Linked DNA regions of Homo sapiens: region 2 is linked to region 1. Evidence: fine-mapped expression QTL. A gene starts in region 1. The other region holds a variant in brackets. All regions are shown on one strand. Distances are from middle to middle. Region 1 holds the start of ACVR2B-AS1 (ACVR2B antisense RNA 1). Region 2 overlaps ITGA9 (integrin subunit alpha 9).

Region 1 (10,862 bases):
CCTCAGATTCCCATCTGGCCACCACACCCTGAGGGAGAGACTTGCACCCATACCTTTGGGGAGAGGCTGCCCACCTGCCCTGGTGTCCCCGGCCTGGGGGCTCCAGGCCCACAGCCTCTGCGGCTCCCCGGAGCGCCACATGGCAGGTCCACTCAGGGGAAGGGGCATGCCCACGGCCTGCTACAACCCCAGTGCTCCGCTTGGCAGACAGGGCTAGCCTTAGCTCCTGAGGCCCCCAGGTGAGCAGAGAGGGGCTGCTGGGCAGGCAGAGAGTCCCCAGCAACAGGCACTTCCTGGCATTTCTGCGTGTACGGGAGGAAGAGGCTGAGTGCCAGCCTTAAGGCAACGGTCAGAGGCGAGTGGGCGGGTGCGGGCAGGCAGGCTGCCCAGCCACCCACAGCCTCCGCCTCCCTGAAACCTGAACCACTTCTGGGAAAACTCAAGGACGCCAGGATTCTCCTCGGTGGTAAGCTGTACACCAGAACCACTAATTTTGAACCAAACTCTCACGTGCTGAGCAGATTTCACTAAGCAGGAATCTCCTAGGCTTTGAGGAGAACCTCACCTCCAACCCTGCATCCAGAGTGGGGGGATGGATATGCACTCAAAAGCCGTTACCCCTACTTCTTACAACTGTAGACCTCTTTGAAAGCGTGAGAACATTCTAGATCAGTGGTTCCCAATCTGAGATGATTTTGCTCTCACCTCTGCCAGGGACATTTAGCAAGATCTGGAAACATTTTTGGTTGACATGATTAAAGAGGATCTACTGGAATTTGTGGGTAGAGGCGGGGATACTGCTAAATATCCTACAATGCACAGAACAGCTCAACCCACCACTACCCATACACAACAGAGTATCATCAGGCCCAAAATGTAATAGTGTCAAGGTTGAGAAACCCTGTTCTACAGTGAGGCCCATGCAACCAGGACCCTGCCTCAGGACTATCTAGAGTCTATCTACAGTCACTAGCAAAAATATTATCCAGACCCAGTCCTCAACCCTCCAGATCCCAATCCATGGTGACAGGTCAGTATCCGTGAGTGGATCTAAACTCCTGAACCGATACTCCTTGGTTCTCATTTGCACTACCCTGAGCTCCCAAGCAGAGGGGCTGAATGCATAGGCTGGCACTCAAGAGGACAGCTTTCTGGAAAGAGAGACCAGGGCTAGAATCTGAACATCCGGCAGGATCACAAAAGGCAAAGTAAGTGAGGTACCAAGGTGGAAAAAGCACCCCTCCCCCGCAGAACAAGCTGCCCCTTAAGACTACTACAGTGGATATGTGCAGGGCAGCCAGGACTTCAAGGAGTCTAATCAGGGGGCAGTAGGTTCCCAGTATCTGTACAAAACAGAGTGGGTGCATACAATGTACACACACATGCACACATATACCGATTTACATTTTCCTGGAGGAAGGGTCCACAGCTTTCATCAGATTCTCAGAGGGGTCTATGACATGGAGGACCACTGTATAGAATGTGGGCTCTTCATTGGCTCCTTATAACAGGAGTTCCTTAGGTGAAGTGCCAGCAGAGGTCCAGGTGCTTCTGGAGATTCTTGATGCCCAGAAAGACCCACAGAGTAGTACACAGTAGAGGCCCACCCAAGTGATGGGAGGCCATAGGGTTTAGATCTTATGTTTTTACCCAGCTATAGGGCCTGGAAAGATGGGCAGGTTTCTCACATCATCTGCCTTGAAAGGGCCCCTAAGAGCTAGGGAGGATACCCATTCCTCCCAAAAGGCAGCCCACCCAGACAGGGCAGAGCCTCGAGTGCCCAGCAGATACAAGGACAGGTAGCAGAAAACACTCTTCTCTGGGAGGGGCACCCACGGCCCATGGCTCTGTAGCCCATGTCCTTGGCAGCTACCGCTACACTAGGCCTGAGGGATGAAAGTCACTTCACTTCATGAGCTCACTCCCTCCGCCCTCCCCCAAGGAAGTGGCCAAGAAACTTCTTTGGGTCAGCCTATCAGAGTAATCAGGGCCTGCACTTCCTGATGGGATAGACAGGAGGCAGGTCCCTCTCCAAGAGCTCTGGTCACTTCACTTAGAATACTGTTTACCCCACCCCCATAAGCCCTTTGATCTGAACCCCAAGTACAGAGTACAGAGACAGGTGTCAGGAGTTCTTGTAGGATACAGCATTGAGTGTCCAGGATGTCCACTGAAATGCAAGAGCCAAATGGCTTGTTTCCCAAGGACACTCGGCCAAGCACAGACCACAAAAGACTTGAAGAATTATTAAAGAACCAACTAACCACTGACTGATCTTGTGACAAGCACCATGTGACATTTATTACACCATAAATTCTACCTTCCCTTCTGAGATTCCATTGTCTAATATGGTAGCCACTAACCAAATGTTCTGCAGAGCACTGGAAATGTGGAAAGTTAGAGTTGAGGATGTTCTGTAAGGCACACACTGGATTTTGATGACAGTACAAAAATGGAATGCAAAATGTCTCGTTTTAATACTGATCTCAGGCTGAAATTACTTTGTATATATCAAATTCAGTGAAATATACTTTTTTTTTGAGACGGAGCCTCACTCTGTCACCAGGCTGCAGTGCAGTGACATGATCTCGGCTCACTGCAACCTCTACCTCCCGGGTTCATGCCATTCCCCTGCCTCAGCCTCTGGCGCAGCTGGGACTACAGGCGTGTGCCACCACACCCAGCTAATTTTTGTATTTTTAGTAGAGACGCATTTCACCACGTTGGCCAGGATGGTCTCGATCTCTTGACCTCGTGATCCTCCCACCTCAGCCTCCCAAAGTGCTGGGATTACTGGCATGAGCCACTGTGCCAGGCCAGTAAAATATACTATTGAAGTTCATTCCATCTCATGGAAAGAATGTGTCCCCCCAAAATTCATACAATGAAGTTCTGACCCCCAGTGTAATGGTATTTGGAGACGGGACCTTTGGGAGGTAGTGAGGGTTAGATTAAGTCATGAGGGTGGGGCCATCAGGTAATGAGAACAGGATTCACAGTCTTACAAAAAGAGGAAAACACCCCCTTGCCCCACCCCACCCCTGTCATTTGAGAATGCAGTAAGAAGGCAGATATCTGCAAGCCAGGAAGAGGGTCCTCACCAGAACCCAACCATGCCAGCACCCTGCACCCTGGGCTCAGACTTAGAGCTTCCAGAACTTTGACAATATAAATTTCTGCTGTTTAAGCCACCAGTCTACAGTATTTTGTTATGGCAGCCCCAGCTAAGACACAGCTGTTTCTTCTTCCTTTTATTAACACGACTACTAGAAAACGTTGTTTTATATCTATCCATAGTTCATACACTATTTCTGTCACACAGCACTCTTCTAGATGTTCCTTCTAGCAGGCATTGTGTGCTGCACAGTATGGGGGTTATTCCAAACAGCAAGCCAGGAGCTTGAAATTAAAGGGCATCCCTGAAGCCAAAGCAACAGGACGGTCAGGTCTGCTCCAAACTGGGCCTGGGGCAGCTCTTTTCACAGTTCTCCACAGGTCAGGGACTGGTTGATGTGACTACAAGAAATACCCAGTGACCCCCACCTTCCTCCCAGGGCAGGAATACAGGTCCTTATAGTGTGACTCTGACTGCCCCCTGGCAGGGTACACTGCTCAGCACTGCCCAAGCTAGGTGACTGAAGCAGAGGAAAAAGAAAGGACATACAGTCCTTCCAGGGGTCTGATGCCGCCCTGCCCTGCCTAAGGAGGGAGGTGTGAGACTGGTGTGATCCCCAGATCCCAGGTCTCAAGCTGTCCTGTCTTGGGAGGAAGCTCTCCTAAAGGCCTGGGCTTGGAAGAGCCCCAGCACTTCCAGGGATCAGGCACCCAGCGGGTCTGGAGGCAGTCAGGTGGGCTGCGGTCTGCCTATCAAGTCAGCTTGCTGCCGCCCTCCCTCTAGCAGACCAATGCCTCCCCTTTCACTTTCGAGCACTCCTTCTTGGGGAAAAGGCATCCCAAGGGAGCGGGGCAAAAAAGAGCAGAAAGTCCAACACGACCACCACTTCGCCTCCAAGAAGCGGCTCCAGGAGAGCTGCAACGCCCTCTTCCATACGGTACTCAGGTGCCAGCTGGTCTTTGCCCTTCGGTTTCCGGACTCAGGCTGCGCGCGCGCGCGCTACTACCCTACAGAACTCACTCGCTTTCGGTGTAAACTAAGCCTCACGACGACGCACAGGAGAAGGTAGAACCAGGGTGGGAATGGGACGCAGATCCCAAATCCCCACCCCCGCAGCAGCGTGGGGACTCCGGCCCCGCCCCTGCACGCCCGGCCCCGCCCCTCGAGGGTTTCCCAGACTCCAGGCGGCTGCCACCGAGGGCGGCGGGGGACCCGCGCTGCATGTGTAATGGGGGCTGGGAACAAAGACGCGCAGGACCCGGCGGCCGGGTACCAGCCGCCCCGACCTTCTCGCCAGAGCTTCAATGCCCAGCTCCCCACGTTTCCCAGGACTGGCCAGGGGACGTCCCGGCGCGCCCGCCGGGGTTAGGCGCACCCCGGCACCACTGAGAGAGGGAAATCGGTGCTTGGACCGTAGGAGAAACAAGCTTTCCAGGCGGAACTCCGCTTGTTTACGCCCGCGCCCACATACCCCCAAACACACATGCGCTGGCCGAACACCTCCAGCCACACGCCCGCAGCCGCGGGCGAGCTGAGCGCTGGTCACCCACCCCGCCACGTGCCTCCTGGAGGCCCGAAGGAAGAGGGACCTGTTGGGTTTTCCATCTTACCCACCCCCTCCCCTCCCAAGTGCCCAAACAAAGCGGTCCCGCGAAGCGACCACACTCCGCATCCCGGGGCCAACGGCAGGGAAAGAGGGAGCAGGTGGGAGCCAGCACCAACAGCCCGCCGGGCCGGTAACGCGACGCAGACTGGTGGCAAGAGATGCAGGGGACTTTGGGCTGCGTGAAGCCGCCCCCTTCGCTTCGCTACACTTAGTGACTCTGAGGGACATGCAACCCTCCCCGCATGCTGCTGCTGCTGCTGCACCTACAATCCTGCCACCCCCAATGAGATCTGCCCACCCCTCTTGGCCGCCTTCCCCACGCTCAGGTTTTCCTCACTCTTTCCCTGGGTTCCACGCGCCCGCGTAGCCCGAACTCCGACCCTGAGGCTCCGCGTCCCGGCCCCCATCGCAGGGGCGCCTCTAGGAACCAGAATCCCGCAGATGACTGCACAGACAAGATCGTGCCCCCAAGTTCGGCGAGCCGGGCGCCCACCGCGCCCCCAGCCCACGCCCCCGGAGGTGAGGGCTGAATACAGGTGGTGCGGCGACGAGGCCCCGGGCCCGCCCTTTGTTGGTAAACACCGCGCGGCGCCAGAGGCCAGCCCCGCGCGCCCTCTCGGCGTCCCCGCGCCGCGCCCAGTTCTTACCGGCGCACAGCGATCCCCAGAGGAGGGCGAGGGCCACCCAGGGCGCCGTCATGTTCCGCGGCGCCGCCCCGCGCACACCCGGAGCCCGCGGGCAGGGCCGCACGGCGCTCCCGGGGCGCGCAGGGCCAGGCGGCGGCTGCGCTCTCCTTCCCGCTCCTTCCTTCGGTCTCGTTCCCTGCGCGCTTCCTGCGCCTTCGTCCCCGAGCAGCGTTCGGGCTCCAAGGGCCGGTCGGCGGGGCCGGGCTCAGGGCCGCTGCGGGCGGCGCAGGCTGCGGCCCGGGCTCCGGGGCGACGCGGGGGCCGGGGGGCGGCGGCGGGGCACGGGCCGGGGCGCGCCCGACTCAGGCATAGCGCGGCGGGGCTGGGCCCGGGCCCCGGGCGCAGGGGCCGAGTCCGGAGGGGCCATGAACGGGGGGAGGGGTGGGGGGGAGGGGAGCTGAACCGAGTCCAAAATGGCTCCTGAGCGGCGGCCACGGAGCCGAGCCAGCGGGGAAACCCGGATGTTGGATACAAAGAGGCGGGCGGGCTGGGCGGGGAGGGGGAGGGGAGGCGGGCCCTCCGGCCGCGTGGTCCGCGCCCCCCTGAGGGGCGGGGCCCCAGAGAAACAACAACACGGAGGCCCCGCCCCCATCCCGCGCCCTGTGGGAGGACGCGCGTGCACCAACTTGCTGGAGGACAGGGCGGGGCGCGCGGACGGAGGTGGCGGGAATGGGCTCCTGACCACTTTGCCCGGGAGCCTGTGGCCACTGCACTCGCAATTAGTGCCCCGCACGCTCGAGCCCAAGCTCCTGACACATGCTGCCCTACAACCCCGGAATGAGTGGATAGTCCCGGGACTCTGGCCCAGACGCCTCTGTGCCTTGGATTCCCCACCTGTGCAATGGGGGTGACAGTGAACCGTGGGAAAGTCGGATCTCTACTGATGGGCGAATTAAGTGGCAGAAAGAGGCTGACTTCCCTGAATTGACAAGCAGTCTCCCGTCTGCAATCCCTTGCCACACACTCAAAGGCACAGCTAGGGCGGGGAGTGGTCATTTAAACCCAACCAAGTGAGGGAGCGGGCAGAGTCCCGCCCCTCTAAGCCCAGCAGGTGGAAAAGGGCCTCTGGCAACCTGCTGGCCCTCCCTAATCCTATCTTGTCTTCTGCAGTTCCTGCGCCACCCACAGCGGCCCTGAGCTTCAATCTGCACTTTCAAAACTTCCCAGTTGCCTCCAGAGCCCTGCAGTTGAAGATCTTGTCTAGCACATGGTTTTGCTGTTTTCCTCACCCCGAACTCCCTCCTTGGAGGGCCATCGTTCTCTGTCTCAGATTCCACCCTCCTTATCACACAACTAGAGCTTCGGAGGAACGTGATGGGGCTCCCAACTAAGGAGGGAAAGACCATCATAGCTCAGGGATGAGGCTCCGAGATCCTCAGATAACATTAATTGTCCTCTGTCTTCTCTTGACTTGGCACATCCTTGCTTGGAGCAGGGCAGGAGCAGCTGAAAGGGAGGTGGCACCTGGAGGTCTCAGTCATTTCACTTCTCTGAGCCTCAGTTTTCCCATATGCAAAGTGAAGAGGTACACTCCCTCAGGGTTTTGCATCTTCTTAATGGCAGAAACCTAGTCAAACAAAATATTATGTAAATGTTCACTATAGGCAGGGCGAGGTGGCTCAAACCTGTAATTCCAGCACTTTTAGAGGCCCAGGAGGCTCTTGAGGTCAGGAGTTCGAGACCAGCCTGACCAACATGGCAAAAACCTGTCTCTACTAAATAATACAAAAATTAGCTGGGCATGGTGACACACACCTGTAATTCCAACTACTCGGTAGGAGGCTGAGGCAGGAGAATCGCTTGAACACAGGAGGGAGGCGGAGGTTGCAGTGAGCTGAGATTGCACCACTGCACTCCATCCTAGGTGACAGAGTGAGACTCTCTCTCAAAAAAAAAACAAGTTTATAAAGGAATGTATATTGTTCTGATTGACATTGAAATAGGGTCAACTACCCCCGGTCACCAGAGCAGCAGGAACACCTCAGGGGCCACACTTTGGAGGCACTGCCCAGAAAGATTTCTGGGTCTTTAAAAGTCCCTTCCAGTCCTGGGAAATTCTATGTGAAAATGATGGTCCCTGCTTGCTATAATCCCTACAGGTGACTTATTATCTAAGCCATTTAACACAGGATTGAATACTATGCGACTGTGTGCCAAGCAAGAAGCAGTGTTGTATGGGACACCCTAGCTGTGTATAAGGTATCTGGTAATAACACAGGAGGCCACAGTGATAGACTGTGATAACGGAAGTAATTCCATATCCAGTTTAAGTGTCTTTTCTAGGGAGTATAAATCGTTATCTCCATTCCAATATGGACTGAAAGGTATCGACTTTTATCCATGTGCCAAAAATTAGATTGGCTGGTTCCTCTCTTCTACTCCATACCAGGTCAGGTATCATAATAAGGACTCAGAGTGGTCCAAGCTGCCCAAATATCTGTGTCTTCCACTCTGACCTGTCTGGGAACCCCAAATTTATATCCAACTGCTTACTTGACAACTGCAGTTGGTAGCCTATCAGGCATCTCAAATTTGACCTAGCCAAAGCAGAAGTCCTCATTTTCCCCGTAAATCTCCTCCCCAGTTTTCCCTGTCTGAATCAATGGCATAAGCAACTACACCATTGCTCAAATCAGAACCTTATGAGTCCTACTGAAACCAGCCAAAGAGTCCCATAGACAGTTGTTTTTGTTTTTGTTTTTGTTTTTGTTTTTGAGACAGAGTTTGGCTCTTATTGCCCTCACTGGAGTGCAGTGGCACGATCTCGGCTCACTGCGACCTCCACCTCCTGAGTTCAAGTGATTCTCCTGCCGCAGCCTCCCAAGTAGCTGGAATTACAGGCACGCCACCATGCCCAGCTAAGTTTTGTATTTTTAGTAGATACAGGGTTTCATCATGTTGGCCAGGCTGGTCTTGAACTCCCAACTTCAGGTGACCTGCCTGCCTCAGCCTCCCAAAGTGCTGGGATTATAGAAGTTGACCCTTTTGCAGTTAAAGCTGGAAACTTACTTGTTTTATCCGAGTTCCTTCCTCAGGAAAGGACCTTCAGGCCTCTCACAAAAAGTATCAAAGAACTGAAGCCATAAAAAGTATCAAAAGAACTGAAACCAGATCACTGCACTAGATGCTGGGCCCCTCAGTCACCATGATTGCTTCCTTGCCCCTCCCATGTTCCTGTTTTCTTACATATTGTTACATTTCTTTCCTGCTATATAAACCCTTGGTTTTGGTCAGTCAAGGAGATGGATTTGAGACTGCACTCCCATCTCCTTGGCTGCAGCACCTGATTAAAGCCTTCTTCCTTGGCAATACTTGTCATCTCAGTGATTGGCTTTCTGTGCACCGAGCAGCAGGACCTAGACCAAACCCCTGGTGTTTCGGTAACAATACTTGATTCCTCCCATATACAGTCCATCAGCAAAATAGCCTCAAAAGTGTATCCACCATCCGACTACTTTTTTCCATGTACACTACTGCAACATTGTCTTATATCTGGACTGTTGCAATAGCAGTGAACCAGAAGGGAGCTTAACTGGTCCTCTGAATTCATTCTTGCCTTAAATAAATCTTCCATATAGTAACCAAAGTGATTCCCTGCCATCATTTTGATCATGAGCTCATCAAGCAAATACTAGGCTGGTTGAGAAAGGTGATAATGGATATTTGAAAAACGAGTTCTATTTGGGTTTTCTGTTCTTTTGAACGACTACAAGATTGCTAAATATCACATTTGGTATCAGACATCGGGTGACCAAAAACTGAAAGGCAAAAAAAATCTGAAACCCCAAATGTCTGCTGTAGAATTTATGGCAGTGAATTCTGCCATTAAGGCATTCAGTGTGTTAGGACCACTATTCCCTGGCTTCCCCACCCTTCAACAATCAAGACCAGAAACCAAGGAATTGAGAAGAATCAGTTGAACATGACATTCTTTAGTATCAAGCTATGGAAGAAGATGGAAAACTATAGCATTGTAATAAGACTTGGCATCTATATAATTATAATGAATTCTATTAAGGGATTAAATACATTCATTTAGCAAGATAAACTTTGAAAGTAACCACAGTTTTTATAATGTTATTTGGGAATTTCTTCATTTGAGAAAATATAAGTGGCCTCACCCTCTCTCAGTTTCTGAGAGGCCCTGGTTAGACATTCACTGTAGTGGGTAATTTAGGCATAGCAATACGAAATTAAACAATTTTATGAGAGTACCATTCACAGTGTATAATTGTTGGGGGAGGGGTGGGCAGTGTATACTTTCTTTGGTAATACAGTTCCCCCAAGACTTAATAAGCTATCTGTTATTTCCTAGACACAGTTCTCAAAGTGCTTTATTTCTTTGCCTTATTTATTTTCTTCCTAGACCTCGTACTTTCCCCGCCCCTTTCTCTTAACTTAATGGTGGTTACTTGAGGTCAAAAAAATGAATTGGCTTGGGTAGAAAGCTAACACTATCTCTCAAGAGAGATTAGATTATGCTGTGCTAATGGAAAAATCCCAAAACCTTAATGGCTTAAAATAACAAAATTTATATCTTTCTCGTGATACATATCCATTGGAGGTCAACAAACAAGCTCTACTCATTGTAATAACTCAGGGACACAGACTAAGAGGGCTACCTTTTGATACATGCTTCTACTATTGGAGAGACAAGGGAAAGAGAGCATGGTAAATGCTGGCCCTTAAAACTTCTACCAGACTGGGAAGATGATGGTTAGGTTGTTGGCTGCATTGTTTTTGAATCTTTCAAAATCTTCACATGAAAACACAGAGTAAGCTGGGTGTGATGGCTTATGCCTGTAATCCCAGCACATCAGGAGGCTGAGGCAGGAGCATCACTTGAGCCCAGGAGTTCAAGACTAGCCTGGACAACATAGTGAGACCCCCGTTTGTTAAAAATAAATAAAAATAAGGCTGGGCATGGTGGCTCACGCCTGTAATCTGAGCACTTTGGGAGGCCAAGGCAGGTGGATCACGAGGTCAAGAGATCGAGACCATTCTGGCCAACACGGTGAAACCCTGTCTCTACTAAAAATACAAAAATTAGCTGGGCATGGTGGCACATACCTGTAGTCCCAGCTACTCAGTAGGCTGAGGTGGGAGAATCACTTGAACCCAGGAGGTGGAGGTTGCAGTGAGCCAAAATCATGCCACTGCACTCCAGCCTGGCAACAGAGCAAGACTTGAATGTCTCACAAAATAGCAATAATTAATTAATTAAAATAAATAAATAAATAAAAATGAAAAACACAGAGCAACTGTATGGAAAAAACCAGACCATCCAAGTGCACTCACTGAAAAACCAGGTGACAGGATTTCCCTCAAAACATCAAAATACAAGCAAATAGAGACAAACTACTAATAGCAACAAAAGCTGTGTGGGCGAGCCTCTGCGCAAGAGGGAGCAGGATACAACAGGGTATATGACATACCTGAGAACCTCCAAGAATTC
Region 2 (10,862 bases), 670 kb after region 1:
AAACATTCACATAATGATGGCATCCTAAAGGACAATGCTATCACAAGAACGAACCACAGAAGTTCTCCAGGGGGGGCCTGGAAGCCAAGGCAGGCATAGTCTTGGGTCTGCCACAAACCCAACATCTTGGCTCAGAGACTGTCTTGACCCTCAAATTCCAGCTCCAGGTCTCCAAGTCACCCAGCTTCCCTTGCCCTCTGAGGAGGGCTGTCCTGGGGTGGCTGACTCACCGTCACCTCTTCTGGGTTCCCATGAGCTATTTCCACCACCCTTAGGGCAGGATCCACCTTCACCTTGGCGCGGGACATGAACTGGATGACAGACGAACTGTCCTGTGGAAGAAACAACACAACTTACTTGAAGATTTTTCTATGATAATGGCTGGGCCTTGAGAGGGACTGGGCAGAACTGAAATTCCATGATTCCATGTAGCCCAGACAAAAATTTTATCATTGAACTAGATACCTCTCCATCCCAGGCACCCACATAAACACAGACTAGGGTCTCTCTTAAGGATTCTTTGCAGATCATGGTGGATGGTGGGAAATGATGGAGTTTGCCAGTAATCAACACACGCAAGATGTGTGCTGTGGTTTCCAAGCAGTTAGAGCCAGATATTTGGATATTGATATTGACATGTTCACAAAGAGTTGAGGATAAATAAAGCTGTTTAATTGTGTAGAGCAAATCTAGGCCTGGCATTCCACAGAAGGCATCTGATCTACATTTTATAGGCATCTTCCTGCCTTGACCACAACCCTCAAACCCTTCATATGAGTTGCTTTTAACTCTTTCTTTGCTCTTAAATGAAGTCATTTTGGAATCAAAACCATTAAACATTGAAAGAGGATGCCTGATGGAGAGATGGGGAAGGGGTAAATATCTGGCTTATGAATTAAGGAGAAAGGGGCAGGGGTATAAGGGAGCACAGCTAAGACTCTGGAATCACCCCCCAGCCAGAGGCAGGCAGAGGTCTTCCTGTGGGCTCAGATTCAAAGACACTGATCCAGATAACCAGAAAATGGCGCCAAAACAGGGATGGAGAAAGAATTTGGAAGAAGACAGGGACTGGAAAAACTGTGGTCTGGGGAGAAGCCAGAACCTCAAGCCAGTGGTACAGGTTGATTGTGGAGCAGAAGGGCAGCCTGGCTTCTGTCGTGGAAACAGATAGCAGAGAACTAGTGCATTCAACATTCTACCTGTGGGGCAGGAGGGGCTCCACAGGCAAGGTGTCTTGTGGTGTCCCCACCTACATCTACCCAGCTTGCCTGTCATGCAAGGAGCTTACACTTAAATGCCACCTTTGGTTAAACCCTCAAAGAAACAGGAAGGTAGAGGACTCCACAGAAAACAGTTCCAAGGGTACCCTTTGCTCATCTCTGCCAAAGAAACCACAAAGACCTTCCTGGGGCACACAGGGACCCTGGTCTGTATATGTGACTTGGGAGTTATGCACCAATTATCATTCTTTTCTTAAAACAACCATAAGACACATTTTAAATGCTTTTGGGAAGCTTGTCATTCAAAAGAGTTACTCCAGTTAACTCACTTTAAGCAAGAAATAATTTTAAGCAACAAATAATCTTTTACCAATTTAACAGTTTTATAAAGTTGGGGTTTTATGTATCAGGATATGCTGTATTTTCAATCTTGAATAATAATAATAATCTTGGGCCAGGCACGATGGTTAAGGCCTGTAATCCCAGCACTTTGAGAGACTGAAGTGGGAGGATCACTTGAGGCTAGGAGGTCAAGTCCAGCCTGGGGAAACATCCTATCTCTACAAAAGATTAAAAAAAAATTCACCTGTCATGGTAGCATGTGCCTGCAGTCCTAGCTGAGGACTAGCTGAGGCAGGAAGATCACTTGAGCCCAGGAGTTTGAGGCTGCAGTGAGCTATGATTGAGCCACTGTACTCCCATCTGGGTGACAGAGCAAGATCCTGTCTCTAAAAATATTTTTTTAAATAAAAACATTAAAATAAATAAAAATAAACTTGGATATTAATAACGATAATGATGATGATAATTGCCAACGTTACAGGCCAAGCAGACGAGGAGTCTGGCACAGGATGGGCCCCCACGGTTGTAGAATCAGTGAGAAAAGCCTTACAGACTGAAAGAAGAATACTTCCAAAAAAATCCGAATCCTACGGTGATTTTTTTTTTTTGAGACAGAGTCTCGCTCTGTTGCCCAGGCTGGAGTGCAATGGCACGATCTTGGCTCACTGCAACCTCCACCTCCCAGGTTCAAGCGATTCTTCTGCCTCAGCCTCCCGAGTAGCTGAGACTACAGGTGCCCACCACCATGCCAGGCTAATTTTTGTATTTTTTAGTAGAGATGGGGTTTCACCATGTTGGCCAGGCTGGTCTTGAATTCCTGACCTTGTGATATGCCCACCTCAGCCTCCCAAAGTGCTGGGATTACAGGCGTGAGCCACTGCGCCCGGCTCCTACAGTGATTTTAAAAATCAGATCCTACATTTCAAATGAAAACTTGTTAAGGTCAAAACAGTAAAACCTCAAATTCCCTTGTCTGGGGCCAGATCTTGAGGTCAAAAGGAAAATAAACACGACTGCAGGCCCAGGCAAACCACAAGGCTGGCGCTGCTCCACATCCTTCGGGAGGCCTGGAGCCATGTGGGCTCCACTCCCCAAGGGAGGCTGTAGCTGGCTTCAGGGCAACTGAAGCTCTGGGAGCAGCTGGGGCCCCATCTGGCTTCCAGGTCAACTTTGTTCTAAGCTTTTCTCTGCACCTGGAAGTGCTCCTGGTTTCTGCTGAAAGGGCACATGGAGAATGAGCCTTGAAGGCTTCATATGACACCCTACAGCTTTCAGCTCTCTTGCCTGCGGCTCTACTGGCCTGGCTGGCCCATGGGGACAGTAGTCACTGGGACATGTTCCTTGGCAAAGGGTCACCACTGGCTGCCGGGATAGAAAAGCAGAAGAACCAGGCTGCAGAGCTGTGCATGATTAAGTGCAAATAACTGAAGTGCAAGCAGCAGCCATCTGGGTTGAGGATAAAGGAAACATCAGAGTGGCTTACAGCCACCAGTGCTGTCACCAGGGCTCTATGGACAGTGGCAAGTATGGCACAGGCAATAAAACTGTCTGCAGCACCATTTTTGAAGAATACAAACAGGACAGGTACATATGCAGAGGCATAGTCCTCCAGCCTGGCCTGCGGACACATTTCAGGAAGGTACTTCTCCAGACGTGGGGTTTTCCAGCCTCCCTTATGGAATCAGAGGATGGCCAGTGGTGCTCTAAGTCAGGCCTGGTCCTCCTCCAACACTGTCCTTTATAAAGGGAGAGGTACAAAGGGAGAAGAAAGCACTGCAGTGTGAGTCCAACTTGCCCCAAACCAGTTTCCCTCCAGAGCAAACCAGAGAAACCAGAACTATGCACAGCTCTCTTCAGGTGTGTGAGGGCTGTAACGGCTACAGATTGAAAATGGAAAAACATCCCCTGATGCCTGCATCCTCTCAGGTCAGTGTGTTACCTCTGTGCCTATTTAAAAATAACCACAGAATGACTTTTCTAAGGTTATTCATTCACACGTGGATAGGTTTGTACAGATTAACACATTTAGTCTTTCTAAAGAAAAATAATTGGAATCTCTGAGGCTAACATGCATATTTAGTTTTATCTTCACATGTAATTATTTTTACAGCAACTTGTTGGAAGTGGCCTCTCAGCAGCTCTCACCTTAAAATAAATCATAGGAAATTTGTATGATTCTTCAAGAGCCACCGATGCACTGGTTGAGGTGGTTTTTTAATGAACCACCTGTGATAAACTCATAATAGCAAAGTGACCTGAGGTTCAAAAGTTGGACCAAAACAAACCGTCATTTAAACTAGGACTCATGGGTCAAATCTGGCCCTCTGCCTGTTTTTATAAAGTTTTACTGGATCACAGCCATGCCCATTTATTTGAGTGTTGTCTATGGCTGCTTTCACAATACAATGGCAGAGTTGAACAGTTGCAAGAGACTGTAGGGCCTGCAAAGCCTGAAATATTTACCACTGGCCCTTTACAGAAAAGGTTAGCCAACCTTCATCCAAAGCGAGGTCCCTAGACTGCAGGACTGGCATCACCTGGGTGCTTGTGGCAACTGGAGAGCCTCAGACTGCACCCCAAAGGAATCTGTGTTTGAACAAGATCTCCAGGTGATTCTGATGCAAGCTAAAGCATGAGAAACTTAAATGGCCAAACAAAATCCCTGGGGAATGTGTTAAAAATGAAGATGCCGATTTATTAAGTCTGGGGTGGAGCCCAGGATTCTGCATTTCTAAGAAACTCTCAGGTGATGCTGATGCTGCTGGTCCTCGGACCACACTTTGAGTAGCAAGGGTCTGGTATTTTACCCTGGCATTATCTACCAGCAAAATTACCAATGGCACTTGCTGGAAAAGTTTCAAAAGGGGCAGCCAGACTATTACTAAACAGTTCAACAACAACAACTACAACAACAGATGTTGGTGAGGATGCAAAGAAAAGGGAACACTTATACACTGTTGATGGGAAGATAAATTAGTACAATCAAAAAAGCAGTATCGAGATTTCTCAAAGAACTAAAAATAGAACTGCCATTCCATCCAGCAATCACACTAATGGGTATATACCCAAAGGGAAAGAAGTATTGTATAAAAAATATACCTGCACTGGTAAGTTTATTGCAGCACTATTCACAACAGCAAAGATAGGGAATCAACTTAAGTGTCCATGAATGGATGACTGGTTATAGAAAATGTGGTATATATATATATATACACACACACACACACCATGGAATATTACTCAGCCATAAAAAAGAATTAAATTATGTCTTTTGCAGCAACATGGATGGAAATGAAGTCCATTTCCCTAAGTGAAATAACTCATAAGTAGTCAACTACTGCATGTTCTCACTTATAAGTGGGAGCTAAGTAATGGGTACCCATAGGCATAAAGAGTGGAATTAACAGACATTGGAGACTCCAAAATGTGGGAGGGGGGTGAGGGTTGAAAAGTTACCT[G/A]TTGGGTACCATGTTCACTATTGGGTACACTAAAAGCCCAGATTTCATCACGATACAATATATTCATATAAGAAGTCTGCACTTGTACCCCCTAAATACATAAAAATAAAAACAGTCTCTTGTAGACAGCCAAAAGGGGGGGCAGCCAGATTGTCATGAGGACACCAATTCAAATGCTTTCCTTTTTCCTTTTTTTTACCCAAAATCAGATGTCAACAATTCAAATGCTTCTAAATGCATCCACAAGTGCGGTTCATTAGGGCTTACCTTTTTCAGTATTTCTGTGTTCAGCAGCATGTAAATGTCTATAGTACGACTTTCTTCTTTAGCAAGAGCACTAAAGTTACAGTGTGCTGTTAGGCAAGAAATTCCTGGTTTTTCACAGTCCTGAGAAGAAAAGTCAGAAAAATTTCCAATGGAATTAAGAACAAAGACAAATCCACAACAATTTACAGAGTAGTGGGCTCCATGAACTTGGTGACTAAGGCAATTCCAGGCAGAGGAAATCCACAAGAAGATGCAATCGTTCTTTCTCGCCACCAGAGGGCATTCAAGGGATTTCCCACCCAGTGGGAACCAGAGCATGCCTTTAAGTCAAGCAACTGGGAGAAAACAGCTCACTAATTTATCCTACCAAGAATTGGATGAATTCACAAAGAGAAATAATTGTTTTTTTTTTTAAACCCACAAACTTAAATTTTGCATTCTGAAAGCATTCTTATGAGTTTTGAACACAGACACGTTTCCTACATTATGTGACTTCCACCTGTGTAGTGGCAAATATACTTTCATGCCTATTTATTAGGTAGGTGAATAAGAGGGCTAAGAAGTCATGTGACACTTCCTCAAGAAAACACAAAAGTTACAATAGAGACGTAAATCTCGGCTGGGCGCAGTGGCTCACGCCTGTAATCCCAGCACTTCGGGAGGCTGAGGTAGGGGGGTCACCTGAGATCAGGAGTTCAAGACCAGTTTGGCCAACATGGTGAAACCCTGTCTCTACAAAAAATACAGAAGTTAGCCAGGCATAGTGGTGGCCGCCTGTAGTCCCAGCTGCTGGGGAGGCTGAGGCGGGAGAACTGCATGAACCCGAGAGGCAGAAGCTGCAGTGAGCCGAGATCATGCCACTGCACTCCACCCTGGGCGACAGAGCAAGACTCCATCTCAAAACAAACAAACAAACAAAAAACCAAAAACATAAATCCCAAATTTAAGTTACAAAAGTTTTCTTTTTTATATGATAGGTTCCAAAATGCGTATACATACCTTGATGATGTTTCATCTATACGGCAAAATTTTCAGCCAGACAGAGTCGTAACTATAAAATCACTAGGTATCACTACATCTAACAAGTCTAAGGGCTTTCAACAATATCACCCTCACTATGTAAGTAAAAAAAAAAAAAAAAAAAAAAAACCCAACCTTTCAAGTGGCAAACAGTCACCCTTCTCCAACAGGAGAAAAGAATGAGAAAGGAAATGATAAAGGTGAGATGTGCCAGGGCTGAAATAAGGAGCTTAGAGAAATGTAACCAAAGATAAAAAAAAGGAGGCTTTGGAAAGCATTGTCATTCCATCTTCAATACCTGCACTTTTTAAAAATGGAGGTGTAACAAATATAGTAAATAGAACAAATCTGAAGTGTGTGTCTTTATAATTTTTTTTTTTTTTTGAGACAGAGTCTTGCTCTGTTGCCCAGGCTGGAGTACAGTGGCACGATCTTGGCTCACTGCAACCTCTGCCTCCCTGATTCAACCGATTCTCCTGCCTCAGCCTCCCTAGTAGCTGGGATTACAGGCGCCCACTACCACATCCAGCTAATTTTTGTATTTTTAGTAGATACAGGGTTTCACCATGTTGGCCAGGCTGGTCTCAAACTCCTGACCTCAGGTGATCCACCCCCTCAGCCTCCCTAAGTGCTGGTATTACAGGCATGAGCCACCGTGCCCGGCCTGTCTTTAAAAATTTTTACATGTGTTTATACCTGGAGGACTACCACCCTGATTAGGATGTAGGACATTTCCAGCATCTAAGCAGGCTCCCTCATGCCCCATCCCATCCACATTCCTCTGAAAGTAACCACCTTCTTGACCTCTATCATCATGATTAGTTTTTGCTATTTCTGAACTTCGTATAAGTGAAATATTACAATATGTGGCTTTTGTCTCTAGCTTCTTCCACTCAATATATTCTGTCTGTGAGATTCATTCATTAGCAGTAGTTTGTTATTTTTCATTACTGTGTAATATTCCAGTGTATGGATATACCACAATTGCTTACTTATTCTCCTATTGATGGATATCTGCATTGTTCTCAGCTTTCAGCTATTTTAACATTTCTGTGAGCATCCTTTTTCATGTCTTTTCTGGGAAGCACAAGTACTCATTTTTCTTGGGGATATACTCAAGAGTAGAATGGCTGTGTCATAGGATACACACGTTTTGTTTTAGTAGATATTATCAAACAGTTTCCCAAAATGTTTGCACAAGAATAATCACTCTTGTTTAGACTCATTCTAGTGGAAGAAACATTTTACTTTGTGCTTGGTGGGTTGCAAAGATTTATCCCTTTTCCAGGTAATAGGATTTGGAATGTAAATTTAACATTTTGATTGAAACCTCAGACTGAAAATTAGGAGTTGACCACAGTCTGTGCCTTTGTAAGTCAAATTGATTAAAACCAGATTTAGGAAATAATAAATATCAAATAGAAAACTGGTGTCTTCCGAGTGAGGACCACCCGTGTTACCCCAACCACTAAACAAATCCTTACCAAGACTTTTCTTCCAGACTTTGTGAAAAAAGCAAATATTGTGTGGAAGATATTTTCTTGTTCTTGAGGGATGATGCAGGGAGTTGGGTTTTTCTGGAAAGAGCAGTTTCCCTTCTCTTGGCCCACCTGCAAATGAAAAGAGGCCTGTCAGAGGAGTCATTCTCAAGAATGAATCATGATGCTGGAGCCTCTTATTGTAGAGGCAGGAGTGGTAGAACCCCAATTCACCTTTCCTCCTTGTCCATTTTGAAGTGGAGAACAATGGCTGAAAAGCTGAAAGGCAGAAGTTGTAGCATCAACAGGGCCAAATAATAGAAAATGTGGATCTTAGGTCCCCCAATAATTGATGAGATGGCATATAACATGCAAATGAGATGTGACTAGGAAATAGGAAGACTTAAGGAGTAAAATAAGCCTTATACTCCATGGTTTTGAAAGCACACTTAAGAACATCCTTACAAGCAATTCTTGTCTGAATGAGGAAAATGAGACTGAACTTAGGTCACTGGCCAACAGTCATGGAGTCAAGAACCCAGGTCTGGAACTTGGGACCAAGCCTGATGGATGATCTGCTGCCAGAGGTTTTCAACCATTCTAGAAAGCCCCCACGGTGCTGTAAAACTCCTTAGGGGTCCTTCTAGAGAAAGGGAATGAGCAGCAAGCAGGACTGCTCATGGTCCAACTCTAAAGCCAGAGTTTTGCTACCAAAAAAATAACTGACCAGTCTCTGCCCTGAGCCAGACGGGGACCTGCATGCTTGCCGAGCTCTTGGTGAGTGATTTGATTTTGCTTCTGACAGCAATGGCAACGGTGCTGAGTGACAGCAACATCAGAAACAAAACAATGGTGCTTAGTCTTTCTTGATGATTTCCTTAAGAACAGCACTCTTTCTGATGTTTAAATTGAGGAACTGTTAGAAAAATGAAGTCTTCTTTATATATCACCATATCACACTGGTTGTAGCTGAAGGCTGGACAGGATGTGAGGTTAAACCAGAAAATTAATAATTAGTAATTCATAATTTAGAATTGTGCTTACAATCCCATGGCTAACCACAGGCATCTGTTAAATTGCCCTGTCTATAATGCCCTTGAGTAAAATATAGTTGTTCAAGAATGTTTCAACTTTTTATTCATGGTAGGGAACAAAAACTTTTTTTGCTGTTGGTTTTTTTTTAACTTTTATTTTATGTTTGGGAGTACATGTGCAGGTGTGTTATATAGGTAAACTTGTGTCATGGAGGTTTTTGGTACAGATTATTTCATCACCCAGGTACTAAGCCTAGTACCCAATAGTTATTTTTTCTACTCCTCTCCCTCCTTCCAACCTCCATTCTCAAATAGACTCCAGTGTCTGTTGTTCCCTTCTTTGTGTTCATGAGTTCTCATAATTTAGCTCCCACTTATCATTGAGATCATGTGATATTTGGTTTTCTGTTCCTGTGTTAGTTTGCTAGGGATAATGGCCTCCAGCTCCATCCATGTTCCTGCAAAGGGCATGATCTCATTCTTTTTTATGGCTGCATAGTATTCCATGGTATATCTGTACAACATTTTCTTTATCCAATCTGTCTTTGATGGGTATTTAGGTTGATTCCATGTCTTTGCTATTGTGAACAGTGCTGCAATGAACATTCATGTGCATGTGTCTTTACGGTAGAATGATTTATATTCATTTGGGTATATATATACCCAGTAATGGGATGCTGGGTTAATTGGCAGTTCTGCTTTTAGCTCTTTGAGGAATAGCCACACTGCTTTCCACAATGGTTGAGCACATTTATACTCCCACCAACAGTGTATAAGCATTCTCTTTTCTCCAAAACCTCTCCATCATCTGTTGATTTTTGACTTTTGCTTTTTTTTTTTTTTTGAGATGGAGTCGCTCACTGTTGCCCAGGCTGGAGTGCAGTGGCGCGATCTTGGCTCACTGCAAGCTCCGCCTCCTGGGTTCAAGCCATTCTCCTGCCTCAGCCTCCCGAGTAGCTGGGACAACAGGCACCTGCCACCATGCCCGGCTAATTTTTTTTTGTATTTTTAGTAGATATGGGGTTCACCGTGTTAGCCAGGATGGTCTCCATCTCCTGACCTCATGATCCGCCCGCCTCGGCCTCCCAAAGTGCTGGGATTACAGGCATGAGCCACCGCACCAGGCCAATTTTTGACTTTTTAATAATAGCCATTCTGACTGGTATGAGATGGTATCTCACCGTGGTTTTGATTTGCATTTCTGTAATGACCAGTGATACTGAGTTTTTCACATGCTTGTTGTCTGCAGGTATGTCTTCTTTAGAAAAGTGTCTGTTCATGTCCTTTGCCCTCCTTTTAATGGAGTTGTTTTATTCTTGCAAATTTAAGTCCCTTATAGATGACAGAGATCAGACCTTCGTCAGATGCATAGTTTGCAAATATTTTCTTCCATTCTGTAGGTTGTCTGTTTACTCTGTTGATAGTCTCTTTTGCTGTGTAGAAGCTCTTCAGTTTAATTAGATTCTATTGGTCAGTTTTTGCTACACAAATAAACTAAAGCTAACAATGCTAATCTATTAATAGTGAATTATAAAACAAGACCACCAAAATTTGCTAAATTTATCTCTATTTTATCTTTGATCTGAATACATTCCAGGATTTACTATATATGTCTGAAAATAAATAAGGTGAAGGTTTATATCCTCAAGTTAAACTATTAGAAAAGAGGATGTTGCCTATAAAAGTTTCTCACAGTTTGGGACTTACTGTCCTTTAAAATTTAAGTGTCTAATAATTTGGAAATTTTGTTTTTTGTTTTTTGTTTTTTTTTTGGAGACAGGGTCTCTGTCTCCCAGGCTGAAGTACAGTAGTCCAGCTCACTGCAGCTTCAACCTCCTGGGCTCAGGTGATCCTCCTTCCTCAGCCTCCTGAGTAGCTGGGACTATAGGCACATGCCACCACACATGGCTAGTTTTTGTTTTGTTTTGTTTTTTGCTGGTTTCTTTTTTTTTTTTTTGGTAGAGATAGAGTTTTGCCACATTACCCAGGCTGGTCTCGAACTCCTTAGCTCAAGCAATCTGCCTGTCTTGGCCTTCCAAAGCA

What was found. PIP is the estimated chance that this variant, and not a neighbour inherited with it, causes the effect.
Region 2: its variant is fine-mapped to the expression of ACVR2B-AS1 in stomach (GTEx, PIP above 0.99).

What each region holds. Positions count from the first base shown.
Region 1 is chr3:38,448,881-38,459,742 of GRCh38, reverse strand. ACVR2B-AS1 (ACVR2B antisense RNA 1) reads left to right here and starts at 4,923. Exons shown (of 2, transcript NR_028389.1): 1 at 4,923-5,240; 2 at 6,518-8,716. ACVR2B (activin A receptor type 2B) reads right to left here and starts at 5,853. Exons shown (of 11, transcript NM_001106.4): 1 at 5,369-5,853. The coding sequence starts at 5,420. It also overlaps a transcript of XYLB not described here. RefSeq lists silencers at 4,184-4,363, 5,174-5,453, 5,874-5,993, 6,004-6,053 and enhancers at 3,999-4,583, 4,584-5,167, 5,772-6,271.
Region 2 is chr3:37,774,447-37,785,308 of GRCh38, reverse strand. It overlaps ITGA9 (integrin subunit alpha 9), which reads right to left. Exons shown (of 28, transcript NM_002207.3): 24 at 7,792-7,917; 25 at 5,288-5,407; 26 at 231-332. All of the region lies in intron 3 of ITGA9-AS1 (ITGA9 antisense RNA 1), which reads left to right. Among named protein-coding and RNA genes, the nearest start is that of ITGA9-AS1, 82 kb to the left of the region's middle. The variant G/A (reference allele first, on the strand shown) is at 5,021.